Regions from separate parts of the Homo sapiens genome. Here region 2 is linked to region 1. A link means that fine-mapping ties the variant in region 1 to the expression of a gene that starts in the linked region. Tissue or cell type: monocytes after LPS. Region 1 holds a variant in brackets; the other region holds the start of a gene. All regions are shown on one strand. Distances are between the middles of the regions.

The links. PIP is the estimated chance that this variant, and not a neighbour inherited with it, causes the effect.
Region 2: NCF2 starts here. The variant in region 1 is fine-mapped to the expression of NCF2 in monocytes after LPS (Fairfax 2014, PIP 0.95).

The regions. Positions count from the first base shown.
Region 1 is chr1:182,782,663-182,790,769 of GRCh38, reverse strand. It overlaps NPL (N-acetylneuraminate pyruvate lyase), which reads right to left and starts at 997. Exons shown (of 13, transcript NM_030769.3): 1 at 965-997. RefSeq lists an enhancer at 844-1,344. The variant T/GTGTGTT (reference allele first, on the strand shown) is at 4,658.
Region 2 is chr1:183,586,271-183,594,377 of GRCh38, reverse strand. NCF2 (neutrophil cytosolic factor 2) reads left to right here and starts at 3,919. Exons shown (of 15, transcript NM_000433.4): 1 at 3,919-4,222; 2 at 7,401-7,483. The coding sequence starts at 4,049. It also overlaps the pseudogene C18orf32P1. RefSeq lists enhancers at 510-569, 3,190-3,529, 3,640-3,899.

The sequences.
Region 1 (8,107 bases):
CGGGAGGCTGAGGCAGGAGAATGGCGTGAACCTGGGAGGTGGAGCTTGCAGTGAGCCGAGATAGCGCCACTGCAGTCCGGCCTGGGCGACAAGAGCGAGACTCCGTCTCAAAAACAACAACAACAACAACAACAACAACAACAACAACAACAACAAAAGACTTTAACAGAGAATGATCAGTATTTTTAAGATTCAAGTTTTTAATAAACTTGGGAATGTTATGCTTTGAAGCATAACAGATAATTATCATTATTTTTAAGATTCAAGTTTTAGATAAACTTGGGAATGTTATGCTTTGAAGTTTTCAGAGCTCGTAGCTAAAGCGAATAGCTCAAATGTTCTCCAGCCTAAGGCTTAATGTGAATTTAGATTATTACTGAAACATTGGGAGGGGGTATTACTCTTGAAATCTTATACCTCCATCCACAGATAAGAACACTCAGTGCAAAGAATTAAAGCTGCCTAAGTCAAATTCTTTTTTAAATGGCAAAGTTGTTTTTTTAAGAGACAGAAAGTGAGGGCAGAATGTACCTCTGGGCAGAGAATATCTTGAGGGACAGGTACTCGGAGAAGAGGAGATACAAATAGGGATTTTTAAAAAAGCAGAAAACCACCAATTTCTCCTCAAGTGAAGGGGGGATGTATCAGGTTTAACTTTAAGCTCTCTTCTGCTCAATTGCTAACTCTATTTTGAGGAAAGGACCTTTGGAGACCCGGCAGATATGCTGTCTGCAAACAATCCGGGGGAGTAAGTTCTTCTGCCCCCGTCTGTCCCTACACTTTTCGCATTCACACCTTCCCCAGATCCGTTTCCCAGCGTATCTGCCTTCCCTCTTTCCTCCGGGTCCGTCAACGTCTCACCCACCCGCGAGTCAGGCCCCAGCGCCCCTCCGCCCGAACGCCCAGGTCGTCGGGCCGTCTGCGTCCGTCTGTCCTAGCCCGTGCCGTCGCGGGCCGCGCTCACCCAGGCCTCCGCTCTTGTCCGTGCAGCCGCTCCGCCCGGCAGCCGCCGCCGCGCTTTATATCCGCGGCCGCCCGGCTCGGGCCCACGTGCCGCCACGCCAGGGAGCCTGGGGGTTGTAGTTCTGCGCCGCCGCCCGCGAGGCGCGCCCGGAACCGCTGGCCCGGAAACCCCGAAACGTTTTGCACACTGGAGTCTGCTCTTCCCCGGGTGTCACCTGAACAACATGGGCTGAAGTGACTCCGGCGCAGCGCCCCGGCTCCCCGAGGATCGGAAGCATCCGAACTGGCGGCCGGGTGCCCGAGAGCACGCGGCTCACCCGCGCCACGCCGAGTGCAAACCTCCCCCTGCCTCGTCTGCACGCCAGTCCTTCCCGCGTGCGGGCACCTCCTGGGCTCCGCTGCGTCTTAATTTTCCTTCTCTTGCGCAGGGCTCTGCAATCCCCACTATCTCGTGGTTCTGCGTTGTGAGGTTTGGGCTGCTGTTTCCGAGGCGTACGGAGAATCCCAACTGCCCATCGGCGTTCAGGTCTCTTCGGGTTGACGCCGCTGCACCAGCCCTGCAGACTCTCGTGTTAAAGAGAGATGAGCGAATTTTAAAGTGAATTATCTACTCATACGGGAGCTTTCCTGGCTTCTTTTGGAGAACATTTGAAAGAGTTTTGAAAGGGAAAATTATTTTTAACCCAACCGCCTCTACTTTCAGGAGTATCAGGAGTCTTATTCTAGGATCATGTACTGTGTGAATAAATCAGGAACAGAGCCAGAGACAAGTCCTCAGTTTTCTCTTGCTGATGTGATTCCACCTCAATTTTCCATAAAAGGCGATGGCTGATGCTTATTATTACATTTAGAGAAACTAAATTGTTCAAAGGGCTTTCTAGTTTGCAAAGTGCTTTTAAATGTATTCTAATAGTTCTTTCGTTGCACAGAGCACCAGAGATAATAGCTAATAAGTACTGTGTTCAGTGCTTACTCAGCCTGCACCGTTCTAGCTGTTTTAACATTTAATTCATAAAATAATCCCATTGGTGGGTCCTGTTTTATAAATGTATATATTACAGATGAGCAAGGATCATTCCATTTTACAGATCAGAAACAGGTTTAAAGAGTTGAAGTAATTTGCCAAAAGCCATAGAGCTGGTTAAGCTGTGGTTTGATTTCAAGTAGTCCAGAAGCTTGTGCTTTTAACACTATGTTATCCTACAGGAAAAAAAAATACAAAAAGAAAAGAAAAAGAAAAACCCTTAGTTACATGAAGCAAGTTCTCCTAAGGCTGCAGCATGGTTTTTGTTTTGGTTTGGTTTTTGTAATATTAACAAGAATATTATATCCTAATGGTACAATGAAAGTTTTTTTTTTTTTTGGAAAGTCACAGTTTAATAAGTGCAAAATTAAGTATGTCAGTACCCAAAAGGTATAGGTCATTAGGCTTAACATTGTCAACCAACAAACCAATATTCTAAATGCATGAACTAACTACTTTTTGTATAAATATGGTAGTGCAAAGTAATTCCTTATAATAATTTGTTAGTGTCTACCAAGAAGCAGATGCTAAGATGGGATTAGATGTGCAAGAAACTTACTGGGGGAGGGATTTGGAGCAGACAGGAGCAGCCTGCAGACTGATGTAGGGCTGACATCTGTGGAACAAAAGATGGAAGAAAGGAGCATGGAGTAGGGAGAGTCTCACTGCATTCTTACAGTATCCACTCTGTGCCGTTATGAAACTCAGAGCCTATACTGTGAAGTGTTGGGGAGACGTTGTTTTAAAATATGGTAAATGCAGTGATAGACTGTACAGAGATATTACAGGAACACTGAGCTCTAATCTGGGCTGAAGGGGGTGGTGTGTGTGTGTGTGTGTGTGTGTGTGTGTGTGAAGAGGCAGGAGGGTGTTCCAGAAACGTCTTACTGGGGAAGGTCACAGCCAAGCTAAATATCAGACAATGAGTAGGGCTTAGAAGAAGAGAGGCAACAAAAGGCTCAGTGCTGAACTGCAGGCCTCTAACCCCCTTCTGATAAGCGGCAGTCTCTGTGAGATTTCTTCTATTATTATGTAGTATTATTTAATCATTAATTTTCTTGCTTTTGTTTCTTGCCCCCAACTCCACTGCAAGGTGTTCAAGGCAGGCATCATGTCCTATTCCTTTGTTTTTCCCACAGTGCAGGACATAGTGTCTATCCAAGTGCAGGCCAAGAGGGTGAGATTTAGAAATATTACTACCATCAACTCTTCTTTGTTTAAAACAAATGTATGTCAGGGTTTTGTATCAGATTTTGTTTGCTACAATTCAAATTTGAAACCCACTGGTGCAGGGGAAAGAGCTTGGGAGATATGGTGCAATGAACTTGGTCAGAACAGTCATATGTTCTATCCTTGGAGCTGGAGGTGATGCCCCCATCACAGGCTCCTGAACTGACTGTGGGTGAGGGGTGGTCCCCCAGAAAGTTTCCCCTTATCTTCTGGTAAGGCTATACTAACCTGAAAAGAGAAAATGGGTTTTCAACAACTGAAACACTGCTAAATTGCGGAACACTTATGAAGGAAGGAGACCTAAGTTGGATCTTGAAGTGTTGTTACCCATTGTGTTCCAGTAAAAGGTCTGTCCACAGGTGGACAAGAGTCTGTTCCATTCACTGTGAAGAATGCGTAACCGGGTATGAGAGTCACTTCTGGAAATTCTGGCTTGTATGGGTGTGTCAATGGGGCTGATGGAAAAGGTAGGGTTTATTTTTTCATCAGAGTCCAGAGGTCTTCAGAGAAGGGAACAGGCCACGAATAGAAGTTGAACTGATTGCTGGCCCTGAGACAAAAACCCTTGTCCTTTAGGGTTTATCTTCTGAGCGTGAGTGCTAACTAGGAGAGGGACATCTCTTGAGAAGGGAAAAGTCCTGTGCATAAGCTTGGGTTCAGAAGATCCTTTGGGATCCCAGGAGGGGGCAGCATAGTGCGGCCATGCTCAGCTGTCTTTTGGCTTAGCCCTTTAGTGAATGCTTACTGGGTTCTTAAGGAGAAAGAGCTAGAAGGAAAAAAATGAGTTGAACACAAGAGATATACTTCCATATTTGGCATTCTTAAACCTAAGATCTGTGACTCCAGATTTTTAAGTAACGACTTTATTGACATATATTTCACTATGATACAATTCATTTAAGTGTATAATAGTTCAGTAGTTTAGTCTATTCACAGAATTGTGCAACTTGTGTCACCATTTTAGAACATTTTCATCACTCCCTCCAATAAAACCCTAGCCATTAGTAGTCACTCATTTTTCTATTTCCCCCTCCCCACCCCCAGCCATAAGCAGCCACCAATCTATTTCTTTCTTTCTTCTTACTTTTTTTTTTGGTTGCCCAGGCTGGAGTGCAATGATGCAATCTTGGCTCACCACAACCTCTGGCTCCCAGGTGATTCTCCTGCCTCAGCCTCTGGAGTAGCTGGGATTACAGGCATGCGCCACCATGCCAGGCTAATTTTGTATTTTTAGTAGAGGCGGGGTATCTCCATGTTGGTCAGGCTGGTCTCAAACTCCCAACCTCAGGTGATCCGCCCACCTCAGCCTCCCAAAGTGTTAGGATTACAGGCGTGAGCCACTGTGCCTGGCCGCCACTAATCTATTTCTATAGATTTGCCCATTCTGGACATTTCATATAAATGGAATTATATGGTGTGTGTGTGTGTGTGTGTGTGTGT[T/GTGTGTT]TTGAGACGGGCTCTCACTCTGTTACCTAGGCTAGAGTGCAGTGACATGACCACAGCTCACTGTACCTTTGACCTCCCAGGCTCAAGCTATCCTCCCACCTCAACCTCCTAAGTAGCTGGGACTATAATCGTGTGCTGCATCTGGCTAATTTTCTATTTATTTTTTGTAGATACAAGGTCTCACTATGTTACCCAGGCTGGTCTCAGACCCCTGAGCCCAAGAGATTGCCTGCCTTGACCTCCCAAAGTGTGGGATTACAGGCATGAGCCACTTCACCCAGCCATGCTATGTGGTCTTTTGTGTCTGGCTTCTTTCATTTAGCATACATAACATTTTCAAGATTTATTCATATTGTGGATTGAGTTAGTATTTCATTCCTTTTTATGTCCATTGTATGGCTATACCACATTTTATTTATCTTTTCCATTGTGACAAGGATGCTTTTCATCTGGCTGACTTCTACTCAGATGCAACCTTCCTAAAAGGGACCTCACTCAGATCTTCCCAATGTAGGTGACAACCTCTCCTCATAACACCCAGTGCTTTCCCTTCTGATCACAACTTCTTGGTGTGGATGTGGTCTATCTGTTCTGTTTCATGTGACACATATAGTGCCAATACTGCATAAATGGTTGAAATAGTATGGCATGCAGAATGGATGTTGATAACAGAGAGCTATGTGCTGGCTCTGTCGCCTGAACATAGACTTTATCACTGATGGGAGCAGGGTGCCTCCCTGTTGACTAGGGTTAAGGCAACAGTAGGAACCCTCCTGGCCAAGAGGGCTGGTATCACACAGAGAGTAAGGACTGGACAAAGAGGACTGTAATGCCTCTTTGTGACCAAGCAGGATGGATTCCTGGCATAGATTAAATCTAGGGAACATTGTCTTGTTGCTGAGTTTGTGACTTCCTTGTCCTGAATCGTATCTCTAGGCCAATGTGACCAGTGGGTTACATACACTCTTTTGTCACCACCTAAAAATGGAGAAAACTTTAGAAAATATGGGCCTAGTTTGACCATTAGCAAGGAGAACACTGAGGGTGCTATGAGTTGTAAACAGAAGAGAAAGTTACGAATCTTAATTTTGCCTACAGGGCTTCTTTGACAATATTCAAATAATTACAGAGGCAAAACTTCCTTTTGAAGGATGTGCAACCTGTTTTAGCTATTGCCGACAAGGACATTAGACCTTTGGGAAGCACAAAAGTGAGTTACATTCTGCTTGTGACAGTATTGTAAAAGGTTCCCCGGAGATCTTAAGGAGTAATGAGCATGTTTTCTAAAAACATTCCAAAGCTCAGCAGCCACTTATATTATGAATAAGGTAAAAACCCACCGCTAGGTGACAGTCTATCAGCAGAAATTGCTCCTTTATGACTCTTTCTAGACTGAAAATTTCTGGGGACATCAGGGAACAACAAAAGTATTAGATAATAGTTTTCTGCTCCCATTCTGTGTACTCTTCCTGTGCAGTTTACTCCCTCAGTTTTAAATGTTCTTCTTCAATCTCTGCCTCTCTCTCATTTATATTAAAATAATGAAAATATGTTGTATAGAAACAGAAATGAGACATGGAAAATTAACACTTGCCTCCTGTCCCATACTGGTTTTGTTTTTGTTTTTGTTTGTTTTGTTTTTGACATAATCTTGCTGAGTGCAGTGGCGTGATCTCCGCTCACTGCAACCTCCACCTCCCGGGTTCAAGTGATTTCCCTACCTCAGCCTCCCAAGTAGCTGGGACTACAGGAGGACACCACCACCATGCCCAGCTAATTTTTTTTGTATGTTAGTAGAGATGGGATTTTACCATGTTGGCCAAGATGGTCTCAATCTCCTGACCTCGTCGTGATCCTCCCACCTCGGCCTCCCAAGGTGCTGGGATTATAGGCGTGAGCCACCATGCCCGGTTGGTTCTTTGGGTTTTTTAAATAAACATACCTGTAAGAAGAGTACACCTAGTGCTCTTGACTTTTCAATGTGTAGAATATACTGTAAAATCCAGTTCAAGTTTAGTTTATAAGTATTTTCTCTCTCATGAATAAAACTCTATGTTTCCTTCAGCATTTGAGGTAAAAATGGGACAATTAGGAGAAATAAATTTTAGGTCTTTTACGAAGAACTTCACTTTATATCTCTTTTGAATGAAGGAAAAACTCCCTGGAAAAAGTTCAGAGTGTGAAATTTGAAATTTAACTTGGTGCCACCCGAGGCTGGTTTGATTCTCGGTAACTGCTGTATTTAGGCACTAAGAGTCAGGGCTCTAGGAAGCTTAGATCCCTCCTGGGCAAATGTGACTGATCTTGTCCCTCCTTTTCCCTTTTGCCCAAGCCTGCAGGGCGCTGTTAGCCTGGACTAGCACACTCAGATTCCATCTTTCAGAGTGGTTTCCCCAGTCGCCATTGGCCTGGTTCACTGGTGCCTAATGAAAAGCTCCAAGAGGTTATTCCAAAGTCTCTCGTGTTACTCCTGTGCTCCATATCTCAGTTTTAGGTATTCTGTTATCTCTGTAACCTAAATTCTGTTATTTCTGAAAGAAAAACATACGATGTATATTCATGCATTTAAAGATAGACCAAGTAGGCACAAAAAAAGGCAAAATGTGGAATGCTTTTTATTCAGTTCTTCCATTTGTATGAAAAGGAAAAAAGAGGTGTTGTAGGGATATACTTGTATATGTGCACATATTTCTAGAAGGATACCAGTGATGTTCAAAATATTTAACAACTGGTTCAGCACTGACACACAGGGATGGATGCTGGTTTTAGAGCTCTAGGGATCCTGGAGTTCCCCTAACATTTATGCTTTCACCCTGTAATGACGGTCAAGACTCTGGGGGGCAGCACTCCAAGACCATGCCAGGCAGCCACCAACTGCTTCCTGAGGGGGCTGAGGCAGGAGGGACTTATTTTTCAATGTGCCCTTTAGTGCTGTTTGAAAGGTTATTTTTTGTTTGAATTCTATTTATGTGCACATAGGTAGATTTTCATTTTGTTTAGCTTAGGAGATAAGTCTTATTTTTAGAATTTGTTTGCGGACATTTCTGTCTAGTTATTTGCCTCCAGCCTGTCTCCAGCCTCAGGGCCATTTCCTTTAGTTCCGTTTTGCTGACTCCTCCACTGAGAGCTCTCCTTAAGCTTCTTAAGCCCCTCTGTTTGAGGGGAAGGGAAGGCCTGGCTGAACTCCCTCTCATCATCTCTCAGTTGCCCCCAACCCCAACACTGTGTCTGAGTCTCCTTTTATTACTTATCTTGGGCCTCTTGTCTTTCCACCTACCAGACCTCAATTCCATTATTAACCAGTATAGGCATCACTCTGCTTAATCTTGTGATCAGAAAATAAGTGCTTTTTTTTTGGTGTTCCCACAACTTTTGTGCATATGGAGAATTAGGTTTCCTATACACACCAGCCCTAATGAGAATAGTTATTATATTAGTGGTAATACTCAC
Region 2 (8,107 bases), 800 kb before region 1:
GAATGCAGTGGCGTGATCATCACTCACTGCAGCCTTTGAAGTCCTGAGCTCAAATGATCCTCCCACCTTAGCCTCCTGAGAAGCTGGGGCTACAGGCATGTGCCACCATGCCTGGCTAATTTTTAGTGTTTTTCTGTAGAGATGGGGTCTGGCTTCATTGCCCAGGCTGGTCTCTAACTCCTGACCTCAAGGGATCTTCCCACCTAAGTGTTGGGATTACAGATGTGAGCCATTGTGCCCAGCCAGATTTGCAGAAAACAGATAATGCAACACATCTCATCAGCATAACTAAGCATCTGAGCTCTTTGTAATTTTCCATTCTCTTTTCTTTCAGACAATGGCTTGTTCTTAGTTGTCTCCCCTCATGATTATAAGACAGCTGCCATATTCCAGACACATCTCACAATGCTGTCTAGTAGAGAAACAAGTGCTGTTTCTTCTCATGTGTTTTATTTTTTATCACTGGGGAAGAAATCTTTCCCAGAAATTCTTAGCAGACTTTCCCTCCTGAAGCGCATGGCTTCAGGAAACTGGAGGCTTGAACAGAACTGGGGTTCTACCAAAAGGAGGAAGGCGAATGGACAGTGGCTGAACAGACCGTCTACTAACAGCACCAAGTAATGATTAAATAGACTGCCCCTGCATTGAGGGACAGAAACAATGTCACAGATGACATACAGTTACAAACTGTAACAAATACATGATCAGAGAGAACCGTGCACATAGCAAGGTCATGGATCTAGAAAGGCCACTCATTGAGGAAGTGAAAGATGAGTAGGAACTAGCCAGGCAGGCTTGGGGGAAGAGTGTTACATGGGCGGAGGAAGAGGCTGGCTCATATGAAACCATGAAAGGAGGCCTGTGTAGCTGGAGTTCTTGGGAGAGGAGGAGGGGAAATGACCTGGAATGAGCACAGGGCAGCAGGCAGGGGGCTTCCTGCAGCATGGGAAGGAGTTCGGGTTATATCCTGAGAGCAGTGCAAAGCCATGGAAGGTTTAAAAACAGGGGCCATGAAGTGATCTGACTTGTGTTTTTAAAAGCTCAATCTGGATGGAGAGGCAAAGAAATGTTAAAAGACTATCATGTTCACCTGGGAGTTGATAGTGGCTTGGCCTGAGTGGTGACAGGAGAAGGGGAGGGAAAGTGGATGAAATGGAGCATGAATGGCTTTGCTAGTGCCCTGGGGGATACAAACATGGGTTAGCCCAGGACTTCCTCCTGAGGCACACTATTTGAGGTGCTAAGACTTGCATGCACATACATTGGTGAAGAGTGATTAAGGGCCACATGGGAGGTGCGGAGAAGGAGATGCAGGAGTTCAGAAGGCGAGATCATGGGTTTGAGCGCTTTCAGGCAGGACTGATTTCAGGGCAGTGTGTTAAGGAGAGTGCTATTTTAGCAGGCCTTCGAAGGCTATGCAAGGTGGGTTTGAAGGTGCAGACATGGGAGAGGGCAGCCTAGAAAGAGGAACTAGCACGAGTCGCACAGATGCAGGAATGAAGGCATAGCGGGAGAAGAGTAAGCAGCAGAGTTTGTATGGGATTGTGAAGGAAAGTTCTGGGGATAAGGCTAGAAAAGTCTTGGCAGTCAGATTAAGGAGAGTTCTGAGTGTCAGGGTGGGATAATAGGAGGGCAAAAACATTTTTTAAAAATGAAGTCTAATTTAGCTACAAATCCATTTGGTTTTCTCAGGAATAATTAATGTGCTATTCAAGTCCTGATTATTTATTCACTAGATGGAATAGCAATACCTCTTTCTGCCATCACTGCTACCTGCAGGTCATTTACCAATGATTTCTAATTTCTTTTAGAATGTATCCCTTCATCATGTATTGAGTATCTGTGCTAGAGATCCTAGAATGAAAAGGCATGGTCCCAACTTCCAAGGAGCCCATGAATTGAGCAGATAAAGAGATAAATTGCAGTAAGTATGATGCAAGTTTTTGGGTAAAGGTGGTACAAAGGAGAGGAAAATTCTCCTACTACCCAGAGTTCAGGGCTAGATTTAGCACAGTTGGTGACATTTAAACTGGGCTTTGAAAGATGAGTAGGAGTTTGCCAGGCAAAGAAGAGAGCTGGGAAGGCCTTGTAAACACAGGAAAACAATCTGGACAAAGACACACATGTCTTCTTAATTCTCACACCTTCAATCCTACAAGCACTGTGGAGTATACATTTTTAAGTTTTATTTTCAGGCTTTTAGGGGAAGCTTGGTGATAATGAGTGAATTCTTTCAGTTGCTACAAAACAAGAGTTTGCATCTAAGTATTTGACCCCCATAAACATGCATTTTACCTAAAAAGAAGCCTGGATTTTAGCAAGCCAAATTGGCTATACCCTTTACCCCCAGTTATTCCTCTGGGAGGTTTTACTGATTTTTACTTTTCTGGAAAAGCAAGGAAAGAACTCTTAAATCTGTTTTTTCAGAGACTAGTAAATCCATTAGTCATCAGTGCAGGACTTTCATCTCTTCAATTTTTCACTGGAAGATGGGAGAAGTCATAATTCACTGTCATGTGGCTCCCAATTTTGACATTTGCAGGAAATTGGTCCCCTCTGAACTTCATGAATGTTCATAAAAGTTATTTCGGCTGGGCACGGTGGCTCACTCCTGTAATCCCAGCACTTTGAGGGGAGGCCGAGGAGGCCGAATCACCTGAGGTCAGGAGTTCGAGACCATCAGCCTGGCCAACATGGTGAAACCCCATCTCTACTAAAAATACAAAAATTAGCAGGGCGTGGTGGCAGGCTTCTGTAATCCCAGCTACTCAGGAGGCTGAGGCAGGAGAATTGCTTGAACCCAGGAGGCAGAGGTTGCAATGAGCTGAGATCGTGTCACTGCATTCCAGCCTGGGCAACAAGAGTGAAACTCCGTCTCAAAAAAAAAAAAAAAAAAGTTATTTCAGGCCCAGATCAGATGGATCTCCAAAGATTATCCTGTCTCAAAAATTTGTTAATGATAATTTCAGCTCAAGATAAACACTAACATATTAATACAGCCTATGGGATTACAAAAAAGTGAGCAAGGAATTCATTCAAGACTGGAAAGAATTATCCTCTCATCTGACACTCCCATTTAACAAGGGTGTGGAAATCAAGGCCCAGTGACACAGGATTTTTTCTCCATCACTTTGTAAGCCAGGAACCTCTGGCTGGTGACACCCTGCCCAGGCCTCAGTGGGCCACACTACCTGCTGCAGGAGATGGCCTGCCCACTCGGCCTGGGTGGGGAGTTTTATTGAGTGATGAAAACAGCTTTCAGTGGAGAGGGGATGCAGGGGTGGTTCCCCTACCCAAAGGCAGGAAAGTCCCCCCAGTGCGGGTGAGTCTGGGGCTTTTATGGGCTCAGAATAGGGGAGGGGCAGGACATAGGTAGTACTGGAAAAGGCAACATTCAATTGGTTAAAAGGCATTAGTCAGAAATAATTAATTGGGAAAGAGCAGACAAACAGGAACAGAAGTTCTCACTCTAGGTCACGGGTTTCATTTGGGACCAGTAGCCTAGTCTTTCAGCCTTCAGGCTGTTTTTGGCTTGAAGGTGGGGTTTCACCAGGGACCTGCCCCTATCTGCCTAGGCATTTGGCTGCCTCCTGTCATTATCACCAGGGAGGTGCCTCTACCTGCCAAGGTTACCCTGGCTCTAGAAGCAGAACTTTGGCCAGAAGCTGCCACAGAACAGGGGTGGGAGAGAGAAGAGGAGCTGGGTGACAGAGCAGAAGCATTTTGGGGAACTGATCCTTCAGGCAGCAGCTGATGTACTTCCTCTCTCCTCCACACTCCACCCCTACTCGCCCTCTCTCTCTCTGCTTCTTTCCTTTTCTCTCTCATGGTAGGGTTATGAGTCAGTTGCCAAAAGGTGGGGACATTTCCTGATGCATTTGCAACACTGAGAAGTTATCTTAAGGGAGGCTGGGCCCCATTCTACTCATCTGGCCCAGAAAGTGAACACCTTGGGGGCCACTAAGGCAGCCCTGCTAGGGGAGACGCTCCAACCTGTCTTCTCTCTGTCTCCTGGCAGCTCTCTTGGCCTCCTAGTTTCTACCTAATCATGTCCCTGGTGGAGGCCATCAGCCTCTGGAATGAAGGGGTGCTGGCAGCGGACAAGAAGGACTGGAAGGGAGCCCTGGATGCCTTCAGTGCCGTCCAGGACCCCCACTCCCGGATTTGCTTCAACATTGGCTGCATGTACACTATCCTGAAGAACATGACTGAAGCAGAGAAGGTGAGTGGAGGTGCCTCTTTCCGGGCCTCCTCTGTGCATTTGTTATTATGATTCTCAACCCCATTGCATTTCGGAAACCTAACCTCTGGGGAGATTGAAAAGAACAAAAGTTGCCCAAGCTCCACCCCTAGACAGCCTGATTTAACTGGTCTGGGAGGGGCCCCAGGCAGCCAGTTTTAAAAGCTCTCCAGGTGGAGAGCAGGTGAGGGGCAGCCAGGGTTGCCTCTTTCTCCATCTTCTAAATTAAAATCATTCTACAAGTGTCTTTAACACCTTTGTGAAGGCTGTCCTAGTCGTACTTTCTTCTACACAGAACTCCTTCTGGGCACAGAATCTCTATCTATCCCAGCGCTTTACACCTGATTATTGATTCTAAGGCACCTCTTTTGGCTTTCCAAGACTTTCATGTGTGTCGACTTTGCCTGCTCAAGAGATTTAAGGGAGGCACTTACAAAAAATAGCTTTTATCCCAAGTGACAATTCTGATCAATTATAAAGGAGACTCTTTTAAAGATGCTGAGGCTGGCAAGAGGAAATTGTACTGTGATTGACTAGTGATGTCTGCTGGGGGCATGGTGTGGGATGTCTCGCATCTTTTTCGTTATGTTTTCTCACTCAAATACCATAGTATGGAGTTAAGCATTCTCGATAATTATTTTTTTGATTGGTTGTGGTAAGGTGGAAAGGGTATGGAGTTTGGAAGGAGAAGATCTAGGATCGAATCCTAGCCTCTGTCTCTCTCTGGACTTTTAGTCTTAAGCAAGCTATGTAGCCTATGTAGACATCTGGCTTTCAGCTTCCTGAGTTTCTAAATATCATGAAAATTAAGTGAGATGCCAAACTATTAATGTCTCGTGGAACTTCACACCACTGTATAAGAGTTAGTTATTATTTTTACCGATTACTGCCAGTCTTTGCAAGGTGTGGCAGTGGTTGACTCCCCAGGTCCCTTAAAGAATCAGTCCCTTCCACACTCCAACAGTAGGTAAACAAGCCTCAGCCACACCCTCCTGACAGGAAGACAGAGAAGTGACTGAAATGTTCTCACATAGCTTGACAAGTCAATCTCAGGCTCTAAGGCAGAGCATGGCAGGACCCCCCACCTCTGGCTGGAGGAAGGACATGGCCCCACCTCCTCTCAGGGGCCTGCTGAGGGGCTGAGTGAACAGCACCACACATTCTGAGGGCTGATGGACACAAAGTGCACATTGTCCAGGAGAAGAGATTGGCAGCTAGTCTGGGCACAGCTATGCCAGCAGGGACTGTAGCCTCCTGCCTTGGCCTGGATATGGGATCCTTGGCAAGGTTGTGTGGGCCACCACTCACTTCTCAGCTCCCAGGCCTTCAGGCCCACATGTCTCTGTTTCTCCTGGCATTCCTCTGCTTCTAGCCTTCTCATTCCTTCTGCCTTTCTTTGTTTTCCTGCTTGAGCCCTTCCTACTAGCATTTATATGCATTCTTATTCATTATCATTTTAATTGTATACTATTCATGTATAAGTTTGTATAGTAAACAAATATAACAATTTATATAATATTTTAATTATTTTCATTTGCAATAAATTTTATTATTTATTTAAACTGAATGTTCAATACATTCATAGGAATACAAGAAATGCAACAAGGGTTAAAATTTCATTATTACATTAGATATCATTTTTTCTTTCTTTTTTTTTTTTTTTGAGATGGAGTCTCACTCTGTCACCCAGGCTGGAGTGCAGTGGTGCAATCTCGGCTCACTGCAACCTCTGCCTCCTGGGTTCAAGTGATTCTCCTGCCTCAGCCTCCCAAGTAGCTGGGATTACAGGCATGCACCACCAAGCCCGTCTAATGATGTTTCATTTTTCAAAGAAGCTTCTCCTATTTCCCTATCTTTTTTATCTTCCACAGAGCAATAAATAGTAATTACTACTCTCCTGGACAAGGTGCTCTGTTGTGTTGGATAGGAATTGTATCTTTAAGTTTGACATCATTATCACCTCCAAAAACTCTACCTTCACTTCATAGCACAGTCTCGCTGCATTGTTTCACAGTAAAATTGTACTCTACTCAAACTAGGAGAACTCAAAGAAATTAGAGCAAACAGCAGTTAAATTCATATGAATGAAAGACAGAAGACCAAAGATTTTAAAGTACTGATTTAGTAACATAGTGTCTACTGGCTCAAAGCTTCTATCTAATCATATTAAATCATATTATTAAAACAGCGATAATAGAAATGAAAGCTACACTAATGAAAAAGGAACTTGGGAATGAGGTCATTAAATATAACTAACTATATTTTAAATATAGATATGTATTTTTTATTAGTATCAGGTAAATGTCTAAATTATCTATTCTGAATTCTAGTCTCAGAGAAGGTCAGAGACAGTTACAAAGAAGGCGCTTCATATTGTCAAGTCCATTTTTAAAATGATGAGCTCCTTTGGGAAAATGCTTTAGTGTTTCTTTTCTTCTAAGATTTCTGTTGGTGATAATCCATTAGTGTCTGCACCCTTATAGTCCACTTTGTCTTTATTTGTATCATTGGATTTTTTTTTTTTTTTTTTTTTTTTTTTTTTGAGACAGGGTGCCTTACTTTGTTGCCCAGGCTGGAGTGCAGTGGTGCCGTCACAGCTCACGGCAGTCTCCACCTCCTGGGCTTGAGCGATTGACCTACCTCAGTCCCCCAAGTAGCTGGGACCACAGGCATGTGCCACCACATCTGACTAATTTTTAAATTTTTCGTAGAGATGGAGTCTCACTATTTTGCCCAGGTTGGTCTTGAACTCCTGGGCTCAAGTGATCCACCTGCCTTGGCCTCCCAAAGTGCTGGGATTACAGGTGTGAGCAACCGCACCTGGGAATTATTGGATTCTTGTGTAGCTTTTCTAGGCCATATATGACTAACAAAAGCAGAAATCAGATGGTATATGTATGGCTCCAGGAATGTTTTGTAGATCCACAGCAGAACTGGAATGACAATACAAGGAATGCACACCATTGTCCCAGACTTCAGCTTCTAAATGTGAGAGCGAAGTGGGGTGCACCGTGAGAGCACAGGGTGGGCCTCGAGGTGCCGACGAGGGCAGACAGCAGAGCTGGGCACCACAGGGAGCTAGGGCTCTGTGAGCCGTGGCTCATCTCACACCTCCTCACTGCCTTGCATCATGGCCATGTCTGGACCCTTCTCTCCTCAGGCCTTTACCAGAAGCATTAACCGAGACAAGCACTTGGCAGTGGCTTACTTCCAACGAGGGATGCTCTACTACCAGACAGAGAAGTAAGTGGTTCAATGTTGCACCAACTGGAGGATTTCAGAGAGAAACCCAAGGGGTCTCAGTGTTGCGGGCTTGGTGTTTGAGCAGTACCTTCCCAACCTCTGTTGGGAAATGTGACTGGCCCTTCTGGGGACAGTTATGCAATAAATCAGCAGGTGAGGCAGAAGCTCTCACTGGGGAGGCAAGGCAGGTCTGCCACCAGATTATAAATCAGCTGTGTCATAGGCACAATGAGCCTAGGTAACCACCATGGGCCTGATACTCAGCTGGTGTGACACCCCACCAGTGTCCCTGATGGGGTCACCCATGTAGGTCTCCTATGAGGTACTGAGCTGTCACAGAATGGGGATGATCATGAAACTGCATCAAAACCTGGCTTCATCCCAGCAAAATGCATTTCCAAAACCTGGTTTAATCCATTTGAGGAAATATACTTCAGCTGCAAAAATGATAATACAAATTAACATTATATGTATAAGAATAAATTACTACAGATAAGTAAGTAGCGTATGCACTTATACAGAAAAAGTTTGCAGTAGATGTTAATTTTTTTTCTTTTTCCGAGACAGAGTTTCACTCTTGTTGCCCAGGCTGGAGTGCAAGGGCTCGATCTCAGCTCACCGCAG